3 linked regions of the Homo sapiens genome follow. The protein of the gene in region 3 purifies or fractionates together with the protein of the main gene of each other region. This does not show direct contact. Each region holds a gene or a part of one and is shown on either strand. Other genes may lie near its edges.

Region 1 (7,255 bases), on a different chromosome or scaffold from region 3:
AGGTGGGGCCCAGTGTGTCCAGGCTGAGCTTCCCTGACAGCCCCCACCCACCCCGACCTGTCAGCAGATCCCTGGGTCTGGCAGCTGGGGGAGCAGCGGTTCTGGCATCAGGTCCCTGGGTGCTCTGGCCAGCGGCTCACAGACCCCCAGCTGGGCCTCACTTCCATGTCATGAGGGGACCACCATGGCCTTGTTCTGAGGCTGGCTCAGGGTCACCAGAGGGTCAGTGGCAGAAGAAGGTTTTGAAAAATGGAGCCCAATCCCTTGCCTGCTCCAGGCACTAGAGGGCCCTTCCTAGGCTGCCTGCAGGATCAGGGTGGACCTGGGTATGGGGCCATGTCTTGATTGTCCTCCTTTCCCCTTGGGTGGCAGAGGAAGGACATCCTTGCAGAGTTGACCAAGAGCCAGAAGGTTTTCTCAGAAAAGCTGGACCACCTGAGCCGCCGTCTTGCCTGGGTCCATGCCACTGTCTACTCCCAGGTGTGCTGGTATTGCAGCTGCCCCTTCCCGACCTCACTGTCTGGCCACGGGTCTAGCAAGATTGTGCCAGGGCCCTTGATGCCCCCACCCTCTCAGGCCTCTGGCACACACATGTCCCTTCCCACACTTCAGACTCCATCACCCCATGCCATGTCCCCTGTACCCCTCATGCTCTGTGGACTGAGGAAGCGCAGTTTCTGGACCTCCAGTTCGCCTCATAGACCTGTCCTTCGAGGAACAAACTCTGTCTGTCTGCCTCCCCTGCTCCCACCCCCTCCCAGTTTCTTGGCCCCCGTCCTTCTCTCCCAGTGCATCAGGGGCTCTGCAGTCTTTCCCGGAGGCACACTCCACCATCTGTGCCTGCCTCTGTCTGACTCATTACCACCCGAGGCCACTGGCTTGTTCCCCACTCACTCATTCACTTGCTCATTCATTCAATAACATGCACTCAAAACCTGGTGTGTGCCAGGTGCTGTCCTGGAACTAGGGACACACACACATTAATAAGTCAGAAAGATGAGCCTCTGCCTTCTGAAGGCACTCAGCCTGGTCAGATACATGGATGGACAGACAGATGGATGGGGCACTCCTGCTGTGACTGAAGTTTCACCCCCAGGCCTCAGACTCTCTGGACTTGTTTCCTCTCCCTGCCCCTCTTGGCATCTCTTCCCTAACCAGTGAGTGCCCTGAGGGTCTCTTCAGGTGCCCAGGTCAGGGTATCTGCTGTCTTCTTGGGCATACCCCTGCATGACTGGGTGATCGAGGCCTTTGGTATCCCCATTTCTATCATCTCTGCTTGCTGTTTCTTCTCATGGCTCTTTTGCAAAACCCAAACCACCTCCACCTTTTTCCCATTCGTGACTCTCCTGCTACCCTGGATGACCGTGCTTACTGCCCCATGACGGGAACTTCCTCTCCCTTCTGCCCTGAGATTTCCTGCCTGCCCACCTCCCTCAGAAGTTTGGCTGCCCTCTCCCACACTGTCTTCTCAAGACCCTTGCCCTCTCATCTCTCTGCCTTTTTTTAGTTATGCTAAAATATGTGTGACATAAAATGTACCATCCTAGCTGTGTTTTTTTTGTTTTGTTTTGTTTTGTGTTTTTTTTGAGACAGAGTCTCACTCTGTTGCCCAGGCTGGACTGCAATGGCATGATCTTGGCTCACTGCAACCTCTGTCTCCCGGGTTCAAGCAGTTCTCCTGGATTATAGATGTGCTACCGCGCCCAGCTACTTTTTGTATTTTTTGGTAGAGACAGGGTTTCACTTTGTTGGCGTGGCTGGTCTCAAACTCCTGGCCTCATGTGATCCTGCCACCTCGGCCTCCCAAAGTGCTGGGGTTACAGGCGTGCGCCACTGTGCCCGGTCACCCATCATAGCCATTTTTAAGTGTTAAGTCTATTCACATTGTCGTGCAGCCAATCTCCACACTCATTTCATCTTGCAAAACTGATACTCCGTGCCTGTTGAACAAAACCTCCTGTCCTCCCTTCCCCAGCTTCCCTGACAGCTCCCACCCATCCCCACCTGTCAGCAGATCCCTGGGTCTGGCAGCTGGGGGAGCAGTGGTTCTGGCATCAGGTCCCTGAGTGCTCTGGCCAGCGGCTCACAGACCCCCAGCTGGGCCTTACTTCCATGTCATGAGGGGACCACCATGGCCCTGTTCTGAGGCTAGCTCAGGTTGCCCCTGGCAACCACCATCCTACTTTCTGTCTCTGAATTTGACTATACTAAGCACCTCATCTAGGAAGAATCATACACTATTTGTTCTTTTGTGTATGGCTTTAGCATAATGTCCTCAAGGTTCATTCGTGTTATAGCATGTGTCAGAATTTCTTCATTTTCCAGGCTGAATAATATTCTGTTGTACGGACACCACATTTCATATATCCAGTCCTTTGCTGATGGACACTCGGGTTGCTTCTACTTTGGGCTACTGTGAATAATGCTGTAATGAACATGGGTTTGCAAAGATCTCTTTGAGACCCTAATTTCAATTCTTTTGGTTATATACCCAGAAGTGGAATTACTGTATCATATGGTAATTCTGTTTTTTATTTTATTTTTAATTTTAATTTTTTATTTTTTTTGAGATGGAGTCTCACTCTGTCACCCAGGCTGGAGTGCAATGGTGCGATCTCGGCTCACATCCTGGGTTCAAGTGTTCTCCTGCCTCAGCCTCCCGAGTAGCTGGGACTACAGGTGCGCACCACCATGCTCGGCTAATTTTTGTGATTTTTTTTTTCTTTTTTTGAGGTGGAGTTTTGCTCTTCTTGCCCAGGCTGGAGTGCAATGGCGCGATCTCGGCTCACGGCAGCCTCTGCCTCCCAGGTTCAAGCAATTCTCCTGCCTCAGCCTCCTGAGTAGCTGGGATTACAGGCATGTGCCACCACGCCCAGCTAATTTTGTATTTTTTTTTTTTTGAGACAGAGTCTCACTCTTTCACCCAGGCCGGAGTGCAATGGCGCTATCTCAGCTCACTGCAAGCTCCGCCTCCCGGGTTCACACCATTCTCCTGCCTCAGCCTCCCGAGTAGCTGGGACTACAGGCGCCTGCCACCACGCCCGGCTAATTTTTTGTATTTTTAGTAGAGACAGGGTTTCACCGTGTTAGCCAGGATGGTCTCGATCTCCTGACCTCGTGATCCACCCGCCTCGGCCTCCCAAAGTGCTGGGATTACAGGCGTGAGCCACCGCGCCTGGCCTAATTTTGTATTTTTTTTTAGTAGAGATGGGGTTTCTTCATATTGATCAGGCTGGTCTTGAACTCCCGACCTCAGGTGATTCGCCCGCCTCGGCCTCCCAAAGTGCTGGGGTTACAGGCGTGAGCCATCGCGCCCTGCAATTTTTGTATTTTTTGTACAGATGGGGTTTCACCGTGTTGGTCAGGCTGGTCTTGAACTGCTGACCTCAGGTGATCCGCCTGCCTCGGCTTCCCAAAGTGCTGGGATTGCAGGCATGAGCCACCGCGCCCGGCCAATTCTGTTGTTTAATTTTTTGGAAACTACCATATCATTTCTACAGTGGCTGTGCCTGTTACATTCTCACCAGTAGTGCATGAGGGTTCCAATTTCTCCATACATATCCTTACCGACACTTCTTATTTTCTGCCCTTTTTTTTTCTTGGTAGACGCAGGGTCTCACTATGTTGCCCAGTTGTCAAACTCCTGGGTTCAAGGAATCCTCCTGCCTCGGCCTCCCAAAGTGCGGGGATTATAGGCATGAGCCACCACACCCGGCAATTTCTACTTTTTTAATAGTAAATCCTAATGGGTAGGATATGGTACCTTATTGTGGTTCTGCATTTTGCTAATGATTAGTGACATTATGACAAATAGTACCTTTACAAGCACTTATTGGCCATTTGCATATCTTTTGTTTGTTGGTTTGTTTGTTTTGTTTTGAGAGGGAGTCTCGCTCTGTGGCACAGGCTGGAGTGCAGTGGCAAGATTTTGGCTCACTGCAACCTCTGCCTCCCAGGTTCAAGCGATTCTTCCACCTCGGCCTCCTGAGTAGCTGGGACTATAGGCATACGCCACCACGCCCGGCTAATTTTTGTATTTTTAGTAGAGATGGGGTTTCACCTTGTTGGTCAGGCTGGTCTCAAACTCCTGACCTTAGGTGATCCGCCTGCCTCGGCCTCCCAAAGTGCTGGGATTACAGGCTTCAGCAACCGCGCCTGGCCATATCCTATAATTTTGCTGAATTTATTTATTAATCCTAGTTGGGGTTTTGTGTGTGTGTGTGTATCTTTAGGATTTTCTACTTATAAAATCATGTCTGTGAACAGAGATAATTTTACTTTATCCTTTCCAGTGTGGTTTCCTTTCTTTTTCATGCTTAGTTGCTCTGGCTGGGATTTCCAGGACTGTGCTGAGCAGAAGTAGAGAAAGTGGCACACTTGTCTTGTTCTTGGTCTGAGGGAGGGAGGGATTATAGTCTGTTACCACTGAGTGTGATGTTAGATGGAGGCTTTTCATATATGGTCTTTATTATGTTGAACTGCCTTCATTCTCTGCATCTTCAGCACTAACTCACCTGTGTCTTTCTAATCCCATTATTAATGGAGAGATTCACTCCTGTAAACCAGCACTTTGGGAGGCTGAAGCGGGAGGATCACTTGAAGCCAAGAGTTCATGACCAGCCTGGGCAACCCATCTCTACAAAAAAAACAAAATTTAATTAGCGGGGCATGGTGACACATACCTGTAGTCCCAGCTACTCTGAGGTCAGGAGTTCAAGACCAGCCTGGCCAACATGGCGAAACCCCATCTCTCCTAAAAATACAAAAATTAGCAGGGCGTGGTATCACATACCTGTAGGAGGATCACATGAGCCCAGGAGTTCCAGGTTACAGTGAGCTGTGATTGTGCCACTGCATTCCAGCCTTGACGCTATATGTGCCCAAAAGTTATGCTCTCTCCTTCTTTCTCTGTCTTAGCTGCTACATCTTCCCCTTCATCTCCCTCCAGCACAGGCTCTTCCCCATCTCTGAAATAGTCTCACCAGGGTCTCTGTCTGCCCCCATCTCAATCCGGCCGGCACATTTCCATCTCCTTTGCATTGATACCTTAGCTCTGATGGGGCCATTGCCAGCCCCTCACCAGACACAGTCTTCGCTGGCCTTCTGTAGCAGCAGGATCATCGCTGCCTAGGTTTGCGCCTAGGCCCTCCCCTAACCTCTTGCTTACATCTTCTCCTCAGTTCCTTGGGCTTTAGGGCACATCAGAGAGCTGGTGTGAAGCCCAGGTGCTGTGACCGCACTCCAAGACACACGGGTGCTGTGGGTCTGGGCTGGGGCCTGAGGCCTCATTCTTGCCTGGGCTCCTTTGTGAGACCCTGACATAGACTTTGTGGAAACCACATTGTGGGGAGCAGGGCCCTCAGCAGGTTTTGTCTGTTTCCTGTGACCTCTGTTCCACCAGTCACACTGCCCCCTGCTTTCCCACCACCTTCTCCTTTGCACTCCAGATCAAATTTCTGCCTGTCTGCTTACCATCGCCAGCTCTCTTGGGCCCTTCACACACCTTGTACTCCACTTTTCCACACAGACTTCCAGTCACAGCACCCTCTTGCCTAAAACTTGCTTACAGGCTGAGGCAGGCAGATCACCTGAGGTCAGGAGTTCAAGACCAGCCTGGCCAACATGGCGAAACCCCATCTCTACTAAAAATACAAAAATTAGCCGAGCGCGGTATCACATACCTGTAGTCCCAGCTACTCGGGAGGCTGAGGCAAGACAATCCCTTGAACTTGGGAGGCGGAGGTTTCCAGTGAGCCAAGAGGGCGTCACTGCACTCCAGCCTGGGTGACTCCATCTCAAAAAAAAAAAAAACTTGCTTACAAATATGCTGACCAGAGTTCTGGCCTGGGTCACAGTAATGCGCCCTCCAGGCTGAGTGCGTCCCTCTTGCCTGCTGAGGACTTGATTGCCCTGCTTGAGCTACTGCTCATGCTTCCTGAAATCCAGGTCTCAGTTGTGCTGTCGTAGGCCTGGGGAGGCCTTTCCTGATCCCCAGGCCAGGACATGCCCCCAAGACCCCACTGGTGCGCAACCCAGCAGCACCCCGTGTGCCTCCTGCAGGAGAAGATGCTGGACATCTACTGGCTGCTGCGCGTCTGCCTGCGGACCATTGAGCACGGTGATCGCACAGGGTCTCTCTTTGCCTTCATGCCCGAGTTCTACCTGAGCGTGGCCATCAACAGCTACAGTGCTCTCAAGAATTACTTTGGTCCCGTGCACAGCATGGAGGAGCTCCCAGGTGATGGAACCATTCAGGCTGAGGCAGAAGCAGAAAAGGGGTCTCTAGTGTGAGCCCTAGGAGCCCTGGTCTGAGACCTCTGTGGCCCAGCAACACACTTCTGTGGGGGGCGGGGAGGGGAGGAGCTTCCTCTGTGGTTCACCCTGCAGCAAACAAACGTCTGCACCCTGCCCTGGGACCTGCAGCCACAGAGCCAACAGCTCCCTAGCAAAGGAAAACAGACAAGATGGAACACGGTGGGTGTAGACCTCTTGGCTTTCACTTCCTTCCTAGTGCTATGAGCAACTGCCATGGTCCAGGAGCCAGCTGGCCTTGCACCTTGACTCCCTGGCACTGGTCACAAAGCGTAGCAGTTGGTCAGGGGCAGAATGGTTTGTCTTGGTAAATCACAGCAGGGGGTGGACCCTGCTAGGGTCCACATCCGAACCTGGGCCTCTCAGCCTGCTGATTCCAGGCTGGGCGTGGCAGTGTATGTCTGGATCAGGCAGTGAGCTGTCAGGCCCCTAGCCTGCCCCCTGCCCAGCCACAGGCCTCAGTGCAGGCTTTGTCTTCAAAGACAGAGCTGTGAGTGCCCAAGGAGCTTTGACTGCTCATCAGGTGTGTGTGCTGAGATGGGTTTGAGCCCAGGTCAGGGCTCCTGCCAGGGCCTGTCATCCCTTCACAGTGAGCCTGTGCCTTAGCCCTTGCACAGCCACCAATGAATGCTTTGCCCGATGTCCCCAGATGCCACCCTGGGTCCAGGCTGGCCTTGGGAGCCAGCTCTAGAGCCTGCTACCCAAGTCCACCCACCCTGCTGACATGCCTGCCTCTGGAGCCCCCACTCCCAGCCGACACGTCTCACTTCCCACCCTTGCAGGCTATGAAGAGACCCTGACCCGCCTGGCTGCCATTCTCGCCAAACACTTTGCCGACGCACGCATTGTGGGCACTGGTGAGGGGCCCCTACAGAGGGTACAGGGGGAGGGGGATGGGATGGCACCTCTGGTCGGCTTTCTTCTATGAAAAATGTGGCCAGGT
Region 2 (7,967 bases), on a different chromosome or scaffold from region 3:
GCTCTGGAGTAAAAGAATTTACCAAAAACGCTTGTAAAGAAAGGCAAATTTATTAAAGAAAGTAGGAAAAGCCAGGCACGGCTCACGCCTGTAATCCCAGCACTTTGGGAGGCTGAGGCAGGCAGATCACAAGGTCAAGAAATTGAGACCATTCTGGCAAACATGGTGAAACCCCGTCTCTACTAAAAATACAAAAATTAGCTGGGCGTGGTGGCGCATGATTGTAGCCCCAGCTACTCGGGAGGCTGAGGCAGGAGAATCGCTTGAATCCAGGAGGCGGAGGTTGCAGTGAGCTGAGATCGCACCACTGCACTCCAGCCTGGTGTCAGAGCGAGACTCCCTCTCAAAAAAAAAAAAAAAGAGAGAGAGAGAAAGAAAGTAGGAAAATACATTGCAATAAAGCAACCGGAAGGCTGCAAAAGAGGAGCCGACTGCAAAGAGACAAAGATTAGCTGGAGATTTTATAACATAGAACTTGGGCTGATTGATAATGCCAATGCACTGGCAGCATAACTTGCTTTCTTTTGTCAGCTGAGATGTTTGATAAATTGAGGCGTTTGTTGGTAAGCAGTAAGTTTTTGAGTTACGTACATTATCTGAGTAGGAGGGCCATATGTATTGGGCAATATGTCCTTGGGCATAAAGAAAAACAGACCTATAATTCATCCTCTTCCTTTTTTGTTTATATGTCCTGAACCGTGAAGACAGGCATATTTATAGCTTATTTGCTTTATCTCTTTGCTTTCCTCTGGTCCCGCCAGCCTGACTCCTTTTCCCTAATTAGGACTCCACAGTAACAACCATTCTACTTTCTGTTTCTGTACATTTGTTATATGTTATTCTTTATGACAATAACAAACCTTCACCCAATCTTTAGTATCCGCAGAGGTAGTCTGTCTACCTCTTTCACAGAGAATGCGAACTGTATCAAATTATAGCCATCATGTCTATAAATTGTCCTCCATACCCACCTTAAGTTTCTTCCTTTCTTCTTGTTACAATGAAAGTGGTATTTCTTCCTCTTATACGAAACCAATCTCTCCATCTCTCCTCTAAATAGCATCTCTCCTCTATATACCATCTCTGTTAATCTTCTCAGGAAGTCTACCCATCCCATTATCCTTTCTTTCTCTTACCCCTTTGCTGATGATTCTAACAGCATTTAAAATGTCAGGCCTCTCCCAATCTAACATAATAATAATGAAGAAAATTTTCCTGGACTCCACATCCAGGGACTGAGCACGCTGTCTTTTCTTTAGACAAATTTCATAGAAATGTTTAAACTTGCTGATTCTATTTTCTCATAATCTCCTCATTCCTTATTCACTCTCATCTGGCTAAAGCCCCCAAACCTCACAATGAAGGTCCCAGTGGCCCTTGTATTGCTAAATCTAGTAGATACTTTTCAGTCTGCATTGCATGATCTCTAGGCAATATTTGACCCTGTTACCCATCCACTTGTCTTTGAAAACACCTTTTCCTTGATTTCTATGTCATATTCTGGTTGTTTTCCTCCCATCTCTTTAGCTGCTTATTTTCAGTTTCTTTTGTCCATTCCTGTTCTCTACCCAAGCCCTAGGTAATCTCTTCCACCCATATGGTTTCACAGACTCTATGTTAATAACTCTCAAATATGTATCTTTGGTGCATTCTTCTTTCACCTAAACTCTAGACCCATACAGCCAACTGCCAAATATCCTAAAGGAGATATCATTTGGCTATTTTGAAGAGAGATGAAAAGCCGCATGTCTAACACTATACTTACCATCTCTGCCCTCACACCATATACTCCTTTTCACTGTCTGCCCAGGTGCTCAAACCAGACTATTGACTTGTTCCTCTCCTTCTCTCCCAAATTGATCACCAAATTCTGTCATGTCCAGCTCTTAAATATCTTTCAAATATTCCCCCTTTTCTTTGCCTTTACTGCCACCACTGTTGTCCAAGCCACTAACATCACTTACCTGATCTATTTAGTATTCATTCATCAGCAAATTATTATTGAGTTTCCGATACTTGCCAAGCACTGTTGTAGACATTGAAGGTAGAGCAGAGAATCAAATACAAGAGTTCTCTACTTTGTAAGTAACACCTAAATCTTTGAATCCATGCTTTGTCTTCCAACTCTTGAAAGAGACGTTGGTATAGAGAAATCGTTCTCTATTATATAATAAACAGTGCAGGCAAAATACATGGCAAATGACATTTGCACCAGTGTAGAAAAGATAACATGTGGTGGAATAAGCTCTGGGGAACTGGAGAGTGGGTGCCTTGACTACAAAACAGCCTTTATTTAGGTCTAACCATTGTTTCCAAGAAGAAATATGAGCCAAGAGAGAGCATTCAGACCTTCTAGTTTTTCAATTCTAGTGTTTATGTGACATTGTCTTATGGGTTTTTATATATTTCCTTGCTTTTAAAATTTATTTCTTTTTCTTTTCTTTTTTTGTGTATTTTTTGTAGAGAGAGGGTTTCACCACGTTGGCCAGGCTGGTCTGGAACTCTTGAGCCCAAGCAATCTGCCTGCCTTGGCCTCCCAAAATGCTGATTATAGGCATGAGCCACTGCTCCTGGCCTACAATTTATTTTTTATTTTTTTGATACCTTACATCCCATATTACAAGCTATTTTTCTATGCCAAAACATGTATTTTGAGGCCGGGCGCGGTGGCTCACGCCTGTAATCCCAGCACTGTGGGAGTCCGAGGCGGGCGGATCACGAGGTCAGGAGATCGAGACCATCCTGGCTAACACGGTGAAACCCTGTCTCTACTAAAAATACAAAAAATTAGCCGGGCGCGGTGGCGGGCGCCTGTAGTCCCAGCCACTCGGGGGCTGAGGCAGGAGAATGGCGTAAACCCGGGAGGCGGAGCTTGCAATGAGCCGAGATCGCGCCACTGCACTCTGGCCTGGGTGAAAGAGCGAGACTCCGTCTCAAAAAAAAAAAACAAAAAAACGTATTTTGAAAATCACTGTGCTTTTTGTTGGAGGTAAGATGTCTGAAACCTGGAAATATTCTTAATCTAGAATAGGTCAGATCCCAGACATATTGAATAAATTATGTTCTGCTATATTTATAGAAACACTTCCAAAGATTTTTCACATAAAGAATCTTAGTAAACTTAACAGAATGAAATTTCCTTTACTTGACAAAGATCATATAGCAAAAACCTTCATAAAATATTAATGGAAAAACTTCAGATGTATCTCTTTAAAGAACAGGAACAAGAAAAAATAACCTCTACACTGCTATTTGTTATAACTACTAGACGATATTTATTCTTGATTTTTTTCCATGTTTGGGAGTAAACTCATGATTATTTTGCTATCACCACCTCACCTTTCTAACATGATAGTAATCAGTCTCTTAGACAAGATCTCGTTTTTTAAAATCATTTGGAAAAGACTATGCCTACCTTCTTTTATTTTAGTAAACTATATACAATATAAACATTTCCATTTTAGTCATTTTCAAGTGTACAGTTCAATGGCATTAAGTACATTCACGTTCTTGTACAACCATCACTACTATCCATCTCCAGAACTTTTTCATCATCCCATACTGAAAATTCATACCTATTAAACAGTAACTGCCCATTCTTCCCTTTCCCCAGCCCCTGGTAAACACTATTCTACTTTCTTTCTTTATGATTTGACTATTCTAGGCACTTCATATAGGTGGACTTATACAATATTTGTCCTTTTGTGCCTGGCTTATCTCAGTGTATAATGCCTCCAAAGTTTATCCATGTTGTACCATGTATCAGAACTTCATTCCTTTTTAAGACTGAATAATATTCCATTGTATGTACATGCAACATTTTTTAATCTATTCATCTGTTCATGGATATTTGGGTTGCTTCCACCTTTTGGTTATTATCAATAATGCTACAATGACATTAGAGTACAAGTGTCTGTTTGTGTCTCTGCTTTCAATTTCTTTGGGTATATTACTAGGAGTAGAATGGCTGCAGAATATGTTCATTCTGTGTTTGGTTACAAATATATGTGGAGGCTGAATTGGCCCCAAAGGCCACCAATTTACAAATGTGTTTTAATTTCATTTCACATTAAACTTTCCAAATGAGCTAGGAGGAGACAGAAACTTACCGTGGCTTATCACGTTCCAAGCATAGTGCCAGGTACTGGTGATAAACTGGTCAAAAAGATTAGGAGTTTAAAGTCCTAGCGTCAAGGAGTTTGAAGCTGAGTAAGAAGACGTGTGAAAAAAACATACTTTATTTTAGTACTCTGTCAGCAAATGTTTATAAATACAGGGCCCAAACAGAGAGTAGGTTGAAAAGAGGATTAGAAACAGTTTTTTTTTTTTTTTTTTTTTTTTTTTGAGACAGAGAGTCTTGCTCTGTCGCCCAGGCTGGAGTGCAGTGGCGCGATCTCAGCTCACCGCAACCTCCGCCTCCCAGGTTCAAGCGATTCTCCTGCCTCAGCCTCCCGAGCAACTGGGATTACAGGCGCGCGCCACCACACCTGGCTAATTTTTGTATTTTTAGTAGAGACGGGGTTTCACTATGTTGGCCAGGCTGGTCTCAAACTCCTGACCCCAAGTGATCCGCCCGCCTCGGCCGCCCAAAGCACTGGGATAACAGGCGTAAGCCAACTGGCCCGGCCCAGAAGAAGTTTTTAGGATATATGGAGGAAAACACAACACAACACAGCTACAACTCCGTGACAACTGAGAGCGTAGTCTTCGAGTACCCAGTTGCCTACTGACAGCCGTCTCCTCTAAGGCGCTTCTTTTAGCCAAGAAAGCGTTCTTTGCGTGCTGTGACGTAAAAAGCAGCGCCGGAAGGGAGAGGGCGGAACTTCCGGCTGAGCCCCAGCGACCGCTCTGGTCGGCTGTGTAGACTGTTGGGTAGGCTGCGTGCTAGCTTCGGCGCGGATCCCTGGGCGTCCGTACGTCGGAGTCCTTCGTCCTCCAGGGTCCCTGTTCTTTGCGCCAGCGGGAACCACTATCTCTGCACTCCTGGTAAGCGAGTTTCTTCTTTCGCCTAATGTGTGTGTTGGGGGTGGGAGGACGCCGGAGACGTTCCAAGATGCACTTAGTGGAGCATGTGCGTTCGGAAGGCCCACGGGTAAGAGGAAGCCCAGTGATTTTAATAAACTATAACTAGTACAGTACCTGAAACAAAATCAGTGGTTCCTGAAATGATGTACTTGATTGCTTTTTACAATTGGGGTTTTCATTTCTGTGGTATTCTAAGTCCTTGCCAGTTACAAGAATAAAACTTTTAAAACTCCTTCTGAAATCAATGTTTATTAGATTGGGGCCTGGGGACCCCAGTTAAATATTTCCGGGATTCTAAAGTAAATTGTTTTCTCTTTAAAGGGAGGCTGAGCCGGGCGCGGTGGCTCACGCCTGTAATCCCAGCACAATGAGAGGCCGAGGTGGGCGGATCACGAGGTCAGGAGATCCGAGACCATCCTGGCTAACACAGTGAAACCCCGTCTGTACTAAAAATACAAAATAGCCGGGCGTGGTGGCGGGTGCCTGTAGTCCCAGCTACTCGGGAGGCTGAGGCAGGAGAATGGCGTGAACCCTGGGAGGCGGAGCTTGCGCCGAGATCGCGCCACTATACTCCAGCCTGGAGTGACAGAGCGAGACTCCGTCTCAAAAAAAATAATAAAGGGAGGCTGAACTTTTTTTTTCTTTTTTTTTTTTTTAATGAAGGAAGCATCGATCTAGGGTATTAGAAAAATATTTGCGTGATTACTGTGAGCCAAATACTGTCAAGCATTGGATTCAATGTTAACATTATAGACAAAGTCCTTGTCCTCATGGACACTAGTTAGTCCTTACCATCTAGTGAGGCAAATAGATAACCAGGCAATTACAGTGCAGTGTTAGAAGTACTGTCATAGGCACCAGAGTGCTGTGAAAAGTAATGGTGGAATACTTGAAGTGTGAGGTGAAGAATAGCTAGAGATGCTGCTGACCTGGCCGCAATAAGCTTAGAAATATATGTTGGGAACAATACCAATGGATAGCAATATCCCTTGAAACAGAACATTGAAGGAGGATCAGATTGTGAAGCAAAGGTAGAGGGGTTATTTCGATTTGTTGCGTTTGAGGTGTTTTTTGTTTGTTTTTGTTGTTTTGAGACAGTCTTACTCTGTCGCTCACTGCAACAGATTTTGTTGCAAAATCTCGGCTCACTGCAACTTCCGCCCCCCTTATTCAAGCGATTCTTCTACATCAGCCTCACGAGTACCTGGGAAGTAGAAGAATCGCCCCACTTCAGCCTCACGAGTACCTGGGATTACAGGCATGCGCCACCACACCTGGCTAATTTTTGTATTTTTAGTAGAGACAGGGTTTCGCCATGTTGGTCAGGCTGGTCTCAAACTCCTGACCTCAAGCGATCCTCCCTCCTCGGCCTTCCAAAGTGCTGGGATTACAGGAGTGAGCCACTGCACCCGGCCTGCATTTGAGATGTCTTTCTAATGCATGGTCATTGAAGCCACAGAAGTAGGTCACATCTCAGAAGGGAAATGTATAGATTGAAAAAAAAGAATAGGATAGAATGCGGAGTTACATCCACCTTTAAGGGAGGGGCATCTGGACATCAGTGCACAGGTCAGAGAGCAGGAAACCTAGGAGCCTGTGCAGGGTCATTAAATGAAGCCAAGGGAAGAAGGAATTTTTCAAGTGTTTTATTTGCATTTTGTAAAAATTTGAATTCCCTTTATTTCTTTTCCTTCAAATTTGAGACAAGTTTTACATCTTTAAGCATCTTCAATATCTCATGGACATCCAGGCTTTTAGGATAAAACTGTGGAGCTTTATATACATTTATATACATTTGTCTCAATCTTGGACATTTTCTTTGTTAATAACATTATTTGCTGCAAAATAAAGCCTGAACTGGGGAAGAATTTGTTGCTATTTTTTGATCAGTAGATCTTGGTATATTTCTGTAACGAGGGCATTGGTACAGCAGTTTCTAAGTGCTTTTTACCTGTTGCCATTCTCAGTACCTTTCATGTCCTTTGTCTTTATTTGTTGCTTTTGTGAAGGATCTTATGTTTGGTTCTGTATCTGGGCTTAGTGTAGAATGGAGGAGTATGCAGCATCATGATGTCAGCTGCCTCGGTGGTACATAACTTTGTTGCCCAGTAACATTGATTCTCTGGGCCCCTAGATAAAAATCTAAAAAGGATCTTCAACTTATCCTTTTAGCTAAAGCAATAGTGAAATTCATGTCTAAAATAAGAACCCAACTTTTTTTTTTTTTTTTTTTGAGACAGAATCTCACTCTGTCACCCAGGCTGGAGTGCAGTGGCACAATCTCGCCTCACTGCAACCTCCAACTCCCGGGTTCAAGCAATTCTCCTGCCTCAGCCTCCCGAGAAGCTGGGATTACAGGTGCTTGCCACCATACCTGGCTAATTTTTGTATTTTTGGTAGAGATGGGGTTTCTCACCATGTTGGCCAGGCTAGTCTTGAACTCCTGACCTCAGGTGATCCACCCACCTCAGGCTCCCAAAGTGCTGGGATTACAGGCATGAGCCACTGCGCCCGGCCAAGAACCCAACTAAGTTTTAAACTTTTTACTCAATGAGTGATCACAGGCTGTAGACCACAGGAGTCTAGGAAAAAAATTGGTACAAAGATTTTACCTTGTGTTTCAAAAATTGATTTTATTTTGCTATTTCAAATTTATACTTGCACAATTAGTTGAGAAGTTATAAAAATCTTTGTCTAATTTTTAATTGCATTTTTCTTCTTTTACAGGGGTTTTGTTACATGGCTGCTTTCCTCAAAATGAGTGTTAGTGTCAATTTCTTCAGACCTTTCACCAGGTTTTTGGTGCCATTTACCCTTCATAGGAAGAGAAATAACTTAACAATTTTGCAGAGATACATGTCTTCCAAAATACCAGCTGTTACTTATCCTAAAAATGAGAGTACACCCCCTTCTGAAGAGCTAGAGTTGGATAAGTGGAAAAC
Region 3 (7,510 bases):
AGGATTGTAAGTTGCCTGGGGTGCATCAGTGAGTGAATGTGAAGGTCTAGGACATTGCTGTACGTGACTGCAGACTTTTTTTTTTTTTTTGAGACTGAGTCTCGCTCTGTTGCCCAGGCTGGAGTGCAATGGCACGATCTTGGCTCACTGCAACCTCCGCCTCCCGGGTTCAAGTGATTCTCCTGCCTTAGCCTCCTGAGCAGCTGGGGTTACGGGTGCCCACCACCACGCCTAGCTAATTTTTGTATTTTTAGTGGAGACGGGGTTTCGCCATGTTGGCCAGGCTGGTCTCAAACTCCTGACCTCAAGTCATCCACCCGCCTGGGCCTCCCAAAGTGCTGGGATTACAGTTGTGAGCCATCGTGCCCAGCCCAAAGTAACTTTTGTTTCAAAAACCAATTATCCCTCTGATGCATTGTGGCCATCAAGTTTGGAGTTGTTGGGTTTCTAGGGCTCTAAACCAGAAACACCTCAGACCCAATGAAGACAAAAGCATCTATTATAATGTTTTCCTGTGTGCCCTGGGGCCCCATCCCTGTGCCCAAGACACCAACTTTCTGAGCTTTCTGAGAGCAAGACCTTGTTCATCTTTCTGTACACCAAGGTCTTAGTACAGCATCTAGAACCCTAGAAGAGTGTCTAGAAACTCGTGTGTGTGTGTGTGTGAGTGTACTGAATGAATCAATGAATGAATGTCTGTGTGGAGAAAGCCAGAGGGTATTTCAGACAGGGTCCCAAAGTATGTGTCCCTTGGTCAGATCACCAGATCTTGGGGATCGCAGGAACTGCCCCAGCTTTGTAGGTACAAAAGTCTGATTTATAAATATACCCAAGAGATGGCCACATATGAGTGGACTAGCTTATGGCAACCATACTTACAAGCGTGTACAGAAGAAAGTCAAGTTATAAATTATACCTTTGTAACTACAGGCATATGAAAATGTACTGCTCCCAGCATTCATTGGCCAGATTATTCTGCCTGGCAGCCATCTCTTCATAGGACCCCCCCGTAGGATAATCAGAGGGTTCCAAGAAAGCCTGGACTTTTCCACGTCAAGGGCTCTTTTGCAATGTGACTTTGATACTTCTCCCCTCAAGAGGTAGAATATAATTTTCCTCCCTTTGAATCTAGGTGGGTGCTGTCTGTGTCTTGCGTTGACTTCTGGGCCTAATTCTTCAGAAGCATTGCAATTTCATTTCATCCTTTTGGAGGCTGACCACCATTCAGAGAAGCTCAGCCTAACTACTGAATGTGGACAGTCTACATGGATGGAGAGGCAATGGGAAATGAACCAAAGCACCCCCAGCAGGGCCAGTACCCAGGACCCACACCTGTGAGTGTGAGGTTCCACTCCCATTGAGCCACCCAGCAGCCACTGCAAGGAGCAGAGACAGGCTATTCTTACTAAACACAACCGTGACCAACAAAAGGACTGAAAGTGATTTCAAGCCACAAGCTGCCCATATACAAAATGGATAACAAAAAGAGACTCAAAGCAAGAGGAAGTGGCTGTATTATATTAATTGTTAATATCACTGACTTCTGAAAGTCTGTCGCCTCGATTTCCACTTTCTCTGCTGTCCCGATGGTCAGGCTGCCTCTACTCCAGCAAGTCCAGAGACACTTTTCTGTTTCAGACTCTCTGAACTATCCTTTTGGAGGTACCAGTCACACCAATCCCCTTCAGAAAACACATACATTGTTGTCTTGATTCAATTTTAGGCCCTGCTTAGTTGTAAACTGAAAACCTCATTTAAGCTACTGGCTTGCTTCTAATTTCCTAGTATTTATTGTCTGCCACAAGCCAGACTCTGTCCTAGGAGCTAATGATACAGCAGAGGACCAGATAGACAAATCCCAGGCTCATGAAATTTACATTCCAGTATAACCTCAGATTGAAGAAGTACTAGCTATTGTCTTCATATACCAGGAATAAAAATATGACCCAAAGCATAAGTGCAGAAAGTACACTGGGCCCTAGAAACAACCTAAATAGCATCCAGCCCTCAGAATTTTATATAAGTCGATGACCAAAAGTGATTCCTCCTATAATTTTGAGATAAGTAGTTTGAGATTACCCAACAGATAGATATGCACATAGGGCACCAATAAAATAGAGGAACCAATGTATTTTTGTTTGTGAAATTTGATATATTTTTTAAAAGGATCAAAGCAGTCATCACAGGAAAAAAATCAGTATTTTATTTATTGCACTACACTTTTTAAAAGTAGTTTTAATGAATTAATTTTCTTTTTCTTTTTTTTTTTTTTTTTTTTTTGTAGAGAGTGTCTCACTCTGTCAGCCAGGCTGGAGTAAAGTGGTATGATCATAGCTCACTGCAGCCTCAAACCCCTGGGTTCATGTGATCCTCCTGTCTCAGCCTTCAGAGTAGCTGGGACAACAGGTGTGTGCCACCATGTCCAGCTAATTTTTACTTATTTTTAAATTTTTTAGTATTTTTTGGTAGAGATGAGGTCTCGCTTTGTTGCCAGAGCTGGTTTGTTTGTTTGTTTTTGAGATGGAATCTCCCTCTGTCACCCAGGCTGGAGTGCAATGGTGTGATCTTGGCTCACTGCAACCTCTGTCTCTGGGGTTCAAGTGATTCTCCTGCCTCAACCTCCCCAGTAGCTGGGATTACAGGCCCATGCAACCACTCCCGGCTAATTTTTGTGTTTTTAGTAGAGACGGGGTTTCATCATGTTGGCCAGGCTGGTCTCGAACTCCTGACCTCAGGTGATCCACCTGCCTCGGCCTCCCAAAGTGCTGGGATTACAGGCATAAGCCACCATGCCTGGCCACAGAGCAGGTTTTGAACTACTAGCCTGAAGCTATTCTCCCGCCTTGGCCTCCCAAAGTGCTGGGATTACAGATATGTGCCACGGTGCCCAGGCTTTAAGCAACTTTTAAAAACTATCATTTTTATTTCAAATACTTATGGAGATGGTGGTATGATAATCTTTTCAGTTTGTAACGCCCTCTAACTGTGTAAAGTAGATCTGAAGTGTTTTCCTGACCCTCACTGGGATGGTTATTTCAAGTACAAAACGTTTTCACACCGTGGGTGATAATCTTCCATAAAAAATTTCATATTTGAATGAAAACAGCTCAAGAAATACACTAATGAGCAAAAATATATGGGGAAAGAGGAACGTGTAGTTTTGACTTAACTGAAGAAACCAAGAGGAAACTGGTCTCCATATGAAAATGTGATCCTGGAAAGTCAGGTGTCAAGATTTTCGAGTAGGAATCTACATGACTTGAATCTCCCTTACTTCCTGAATAAAAGTGACATCTTTCAGTATTTATTTAAAAAAATCATATGTCAGTGGAGCTTCCAGGTAAATTATCTTTAAAAAATCATATTTGAGTGGAGCTTCCAGGTAAATTATCTTCCTCTTTTAAGGGAGCTCCCTGTATTTCTAGCGGCTTTAACTGATATCCCTTTCAGTGAGAAATCCTCATTAGCTACATAAGAGGGGACTGGGTGTTTTTTTCAAAAAGCTGGTATTGGGACATCTACCTCTGTGATGTCCCTGGTCAGCTATATTGTCTAGGAGTTGAAACATTTTGTATTAATTTTCTATCATTTACTGGGTGCCTCTTCTGTGACAGTGCCACTCAAAGGTCTATTGATATATTATCAGGTGACTGAATTCTATATTCTGAAGTAGGAGATACTGTTATTGCTGTTATTACATTTTACACATAAGAAAGCTGAGGCTCTGAGAGGTCAAGATCACGCAGCTAACAAATGAGCCAAGACTCTTGCTTTAGAGCTTGTCCTCTATTCTTGCTTTTCTTTCCAAAAAACACTACAATTTTTGTTTTGTTTTGTTTTGTTTTGAGACAGGGTCTCGAGGTGTCACCCAGGCTGGAGTGCAGTGGCGCGATTTCGACTCACCGCAACCTCCGCCTCCGCGCTTAAGCGATTCTCCTGCCTCAGCCTCCCAAGTAGCTGGGACTACAAGCTCGGGACACCACGTAAAAATGATCAAGTTCTAACATGTATGCATACGAATTACAATGGAAATAAAATTAGCAAAGCGCTTATGCTAATGCTCAATACAATTGATTTCCTCACATTTAATCCTCACAACCACTACAACCACCTCTAACTCAAGCTCTGAGGGACTGACGTGCCCGGAGGACACAGCTCTTATCTGGTGAGAACAGGAGCGTTTTAGCGAAACTCCAAACTCCTAGGTCCCGCCTTCCCCAGGAAGGCTTTTCCTGGCACTGTGCTTCCGGAAGTCCCGCCCCAGGAGAAAAACAGCTTCCGGAAAAAATTGCGGCCGGCAAACCGGAACAGAACTAGGGGCGGGGCCGCTTGAGACGCTCTAGTATTCCTCTACTCTATGGCCACTGTCAATTGACAAGTCCCGAGCGGTAAAGCTCCTTTCTATTGGATGAGCAGCCTCGCGTAGGCGGGAAGCTCGGTGCACGGCGCGCTGATTGGCTGGATCCGCCATGCGGAGCGGCTAGGTGGTGCACGGGAAACGCGGGCGTAGGTGACCGGCGGCTTTCTCAGTTTTGGTGGAGACGGGCGCATGTGGGCGCTTTGCTCGCTGCTGCGGTCCGCGGCCGGACGCACCATGTCGCAGGGACGCACCATATCGCAGGCACCCGCCCGCCGCGAGCGGCCGCGCAAGGACCCGCTGCGGCACCTGCGCACGCGAGAGAAGCGCGGACCGTCGGGGTGCTCCGGCGGCCCAAACACCGTGTACCTGCAGGTGGTGGCAGCGGGTAGCCGGGACTCGGGCGCCGCGCTCTACGTCTTCTCCGAGTTCAACCGGTCAGTCAACGAGCCACGCCCCGTCCCGCTGGGCCCTCAGTGCGGCGCAGCCTCTGAGCATCGGGGCACCTCCCAGGGCTTCGGCTTCCCTGCTTCACACATGTGGTTCACTGTTGCGGGGGTTCGTGGAGTTATGGTGGGTGGGAAATCCGAGATTCTTTGCATCCATGTGATTTCTGCGGATCTGTGAAGAACTTCAGGCCTGGGTCTGAGCGTCCTTTTCCCAACCCTTGGGCCCCGGCCTGGCTGTCAGCACTTTCGGAGCTCCACCCTCTTCCGTGCACCCCAAGGCCAGTGTGTCGTTGTTAGCGTGTGGGGTGGACAGATCTGGTGTGTAGCCGGTGGTGGAGAAAGGACTCATTTTGTCCTAGCACCCACACACACAGGCCCCCACTCCTCTCCACCTCTGCTAAGGAGGGCTCAAAACCCACCAGCATAAATGTGGCTCGGTAGTCCAACGTGGACTTTTAATTTTTTTTTCTTTTTTTTTTTTCCAGAGTCTACAATAAAACATCTAATTGGTGTCAGAGAGTTTACAGAATAAAACCTTCTGAATGTCTTGTGTAATGTTTGTCTTGTAGGTATCTCTTCAACTGTGGAGAAGGCGTTCAGAGACTCATGCAGGAGCACAAGTGAGTCAGTCTCTTGCTTTCGGAGGGGGAGTTGATTACGGGGCTTGAAAGCCGAAATGAGAGGCCAGTTGTTTTTTATAGCAAAAGTGGTCCTTGTTCTGTTCATGTTATCCTGTTTAAATGTTTTTTCATTCTTAGGTTAAAGGTTGCTCGCCTGGACAACATATTCCTGACACGAATGCACTGGTCTAATGTTGGGGGCTTAAGTGGTGAGTATATTCTTTGCAGTGTCAGAGGCTGGTGGGAAGTCTCTGGGATTTTAACCGGCTTTACCATTTTTCCAAGTCTGGGGTGGGCAGCTACTTTTTTTTTTTTTTTTTTTTTTGTCAGTGGCGTGATCTTGGCTCACTGCAACCTTTGCCTTCTGGGCTCAGGTGATCCCCTCACCTCAGCCTCCCAAATAGCTGGGACCACACGTGTGCCCCATCACACCTGGCTAATTTTTTTTGTATGTTTTGTAGCGACGGGGTTTTGCTATGTTGCCCAGGCTGGTCTCAAACTTCTGCGATCCTCCTGTCTCGGCCTCCCAGAGTGCTGGGATTACAGGCATGAGCCACCGCACCTGGCCTGGAATTCTTTTTATACCAGCCCAGTCAGCAGCAGCACAGAGCATTAAAAGCTGTGACTCAGGAGAACAGATTTTAATATGGATACCACCTCTTAAGTGTTACCATCCACTTAGTTTCTTGCGTTGCGGGGACAGAGATTTGTGGCAGTAAACTGGAGAGTCTAGCAGTGGTGATTACAGTTAATATGTTTACCGCAGACGCCATTGGCACATTGGCAGCCACACACATACCCACTGTCCAGATTACCCTGTCATTTATGTCTATCAACCGGAAGGTCAGGATTGTGTTGCAGCCAAATTGTGTGGGCTTGGTGGCATGGACCGGAAGGAGTGAAGTGTTAGACCAGTCTCCCTTCTCAGGGCTGAGACTAGGGTGAGGCACTTAGGGTGCCAGCCCTTCACTTGCATGATTCCTTACATTTTGCACACTGGGTGCCTTGCTGCTTCACCCTAGTGACAGCTCAGCCCATTCTAGAGGCATTTAAAGAATATTTGGTGTCTGTTACACCTCTAGCTGGCATCACTTCTGCTCTGTACATCTTCCCTGGTTGTACTTCCAAAGCTGGAAGGTGGAGATGTAGATAAATAGTTGGATTAGTACGGGGTGCTCCTCCTGTTAGTGACGACAGGTCAAATTGATGAGAGATCTGATTTTATGCATCCTTTTTAGGAATGATTCTTACTTTAAAGGAAACCGGGCTTCCAAAGTGTGTACTTTCTGGACCTCCACAACTGGTGAGTCTTTCCTGACACATCTTTCAAAAGCAATCTTTCCTTTTGTAATATCAGTAACAAGAATTTTCCTTTTTGCAAATCAGTCTTCTGCCCTCCAGAGATACCTGGTCGTTGAAACGCTTCCCCTTTCAAGTTAAAAAGACTTGAGTTCTGATTAACTATGTGACCTTGATCAAGTTACTTTACCTTTCTGAGCTTTAGTTTATTCATCTATAAGATGACTATCACGTTTCATAGAGTTGTTAAAGATTAAATGACGTAGCAGCACATATAAAGCACTAAATCACTTTATTAGATATATGTTTGGCACCAAGTAGGCACACAAGAAAGGGCAGCTTTTGTTTTTATTCAATAAATTTCTGACATCTTCTTACCTTTCAGTCCAGCTTATTACACTCTTGAGAAGGCGTGTGTGTGTTGTTGAATATAACAGTTCATTTTCCAGTCCTTAAGAAGAAAGTCACCAAGACCTGTTAAGTCTTTCCCCAAAATAACGTTTGAAATCCATCCATTTGTCTCTTATTGAGGCCTTCCTTATTTCTGTTTTCTATGCCTGTAAACTACAATAGCCTCCCATATTCATTCTCGCCTTCCTGTAATCCATCTGCCACACAGCAGCCAGAGAGGTCACTTCAAGACAGAAAAGTAGTGTGTCACTTGCCACCCTAAAGCCCTTCATGGGCTCCCCATTGCAATACAATCAAAACACCTTGATATGGCCTACAAGTCCTGTAGGCCCCGGCCGCTACCCACACTTCCATCTGTACCCATCGCTGAACTG

Evidence for each region. Proteins that work in one complex are often made in the same cells at the same time.
Region 1: the proteins of ELAC2 (region 3) and RNF123 purify together in Homo sapiens (co-immunoprecipitation; 3 studies listed by BioGRID and IntAct, with this or other methods). This does not show direct contact.
Region 2: the proteins of ELAC2 (region 3) and TRMT10C purify together in Homo sapiens (co-immunoprecipitation; 3 studies listed by BioGRID and IntAct, with this or other methods). This does not show direct contact.

What each region holds. Positions count from the first base shown.
Region 1 is NC_000003.12:49,706,419-49,713,673, forward strand, and holds part of RNF123 (E3 ubiquitin-protein ligase RNF123), read left to right. Parts: intron 1-372; coding exon 373-480; intron 481-6,060; coding exon 6,061-6,238; exon of another isoform or gene 6,239-6,474; intron 6,475-7,094; coding exon 7,095-7,169; intron 7,170-7,255. UniProt on the Homo sapiens protein: Catalytic subunit of the KPC complex that acts as E3 ubiquitin-protein ligase. Promotes the ubiquitination and proteasome-mediated degradation of CDKN1B which is the cyclin-dependent kinase inhibitor at the G0-G1 transition of the cell cycle.
Region 2 is NC_000003.12:101,557,018-101,564,984, forward strand, and holds the start of TRMT10C (tRNA methyltransferase 10 homolog C precursor), read left to right. Parts: upstream 1-4,850; 5' UTR 4,851-4,986; intron 4,987-7,752; 5' UTR 7,753-7,764; coding exon 7,765-7,967. UniProt on the Homo sapiens protein: Mitochondrial tRNA N(1)-methyltransferase involved in mitochondrial tRNA maturation. Component of mitochondrial ribonuclease P, a complex composed of TRMT10C/MRPP1, HSD17B10/MRPP2 and PRORP/MRPP3, which cleaves tRNA molecules in their 5'-ends.
Region 3 is NC_000017.11:13,014,987-13,022,496, reverse strand, and holds the start of ELAC2 (zinc phosphodiesterase ELAC protein 2), read left to right. Parts: upstream 1-4,469; 5' UTR 4,470-4,549; coding exon 4,550-4,794; intron 4,795-4,832; exon of another isoform or gene 4,833-4,930; intron 4,931-5,375; coding exon 5,376-5,426; intron 5,427-5,564; coding exon 5,565-5,635; intron 5,636-6,664; coding exon 6,665-6,729; intron 6,730-7,510. UniProt on the Homo sapiens protein: Zinc phosphodiesterase, which displays mitochondrial tRNA 3'-processing endonuclease activity. Involved in tRNA maturation, by removing a 3'-trailer from precursor tRNA.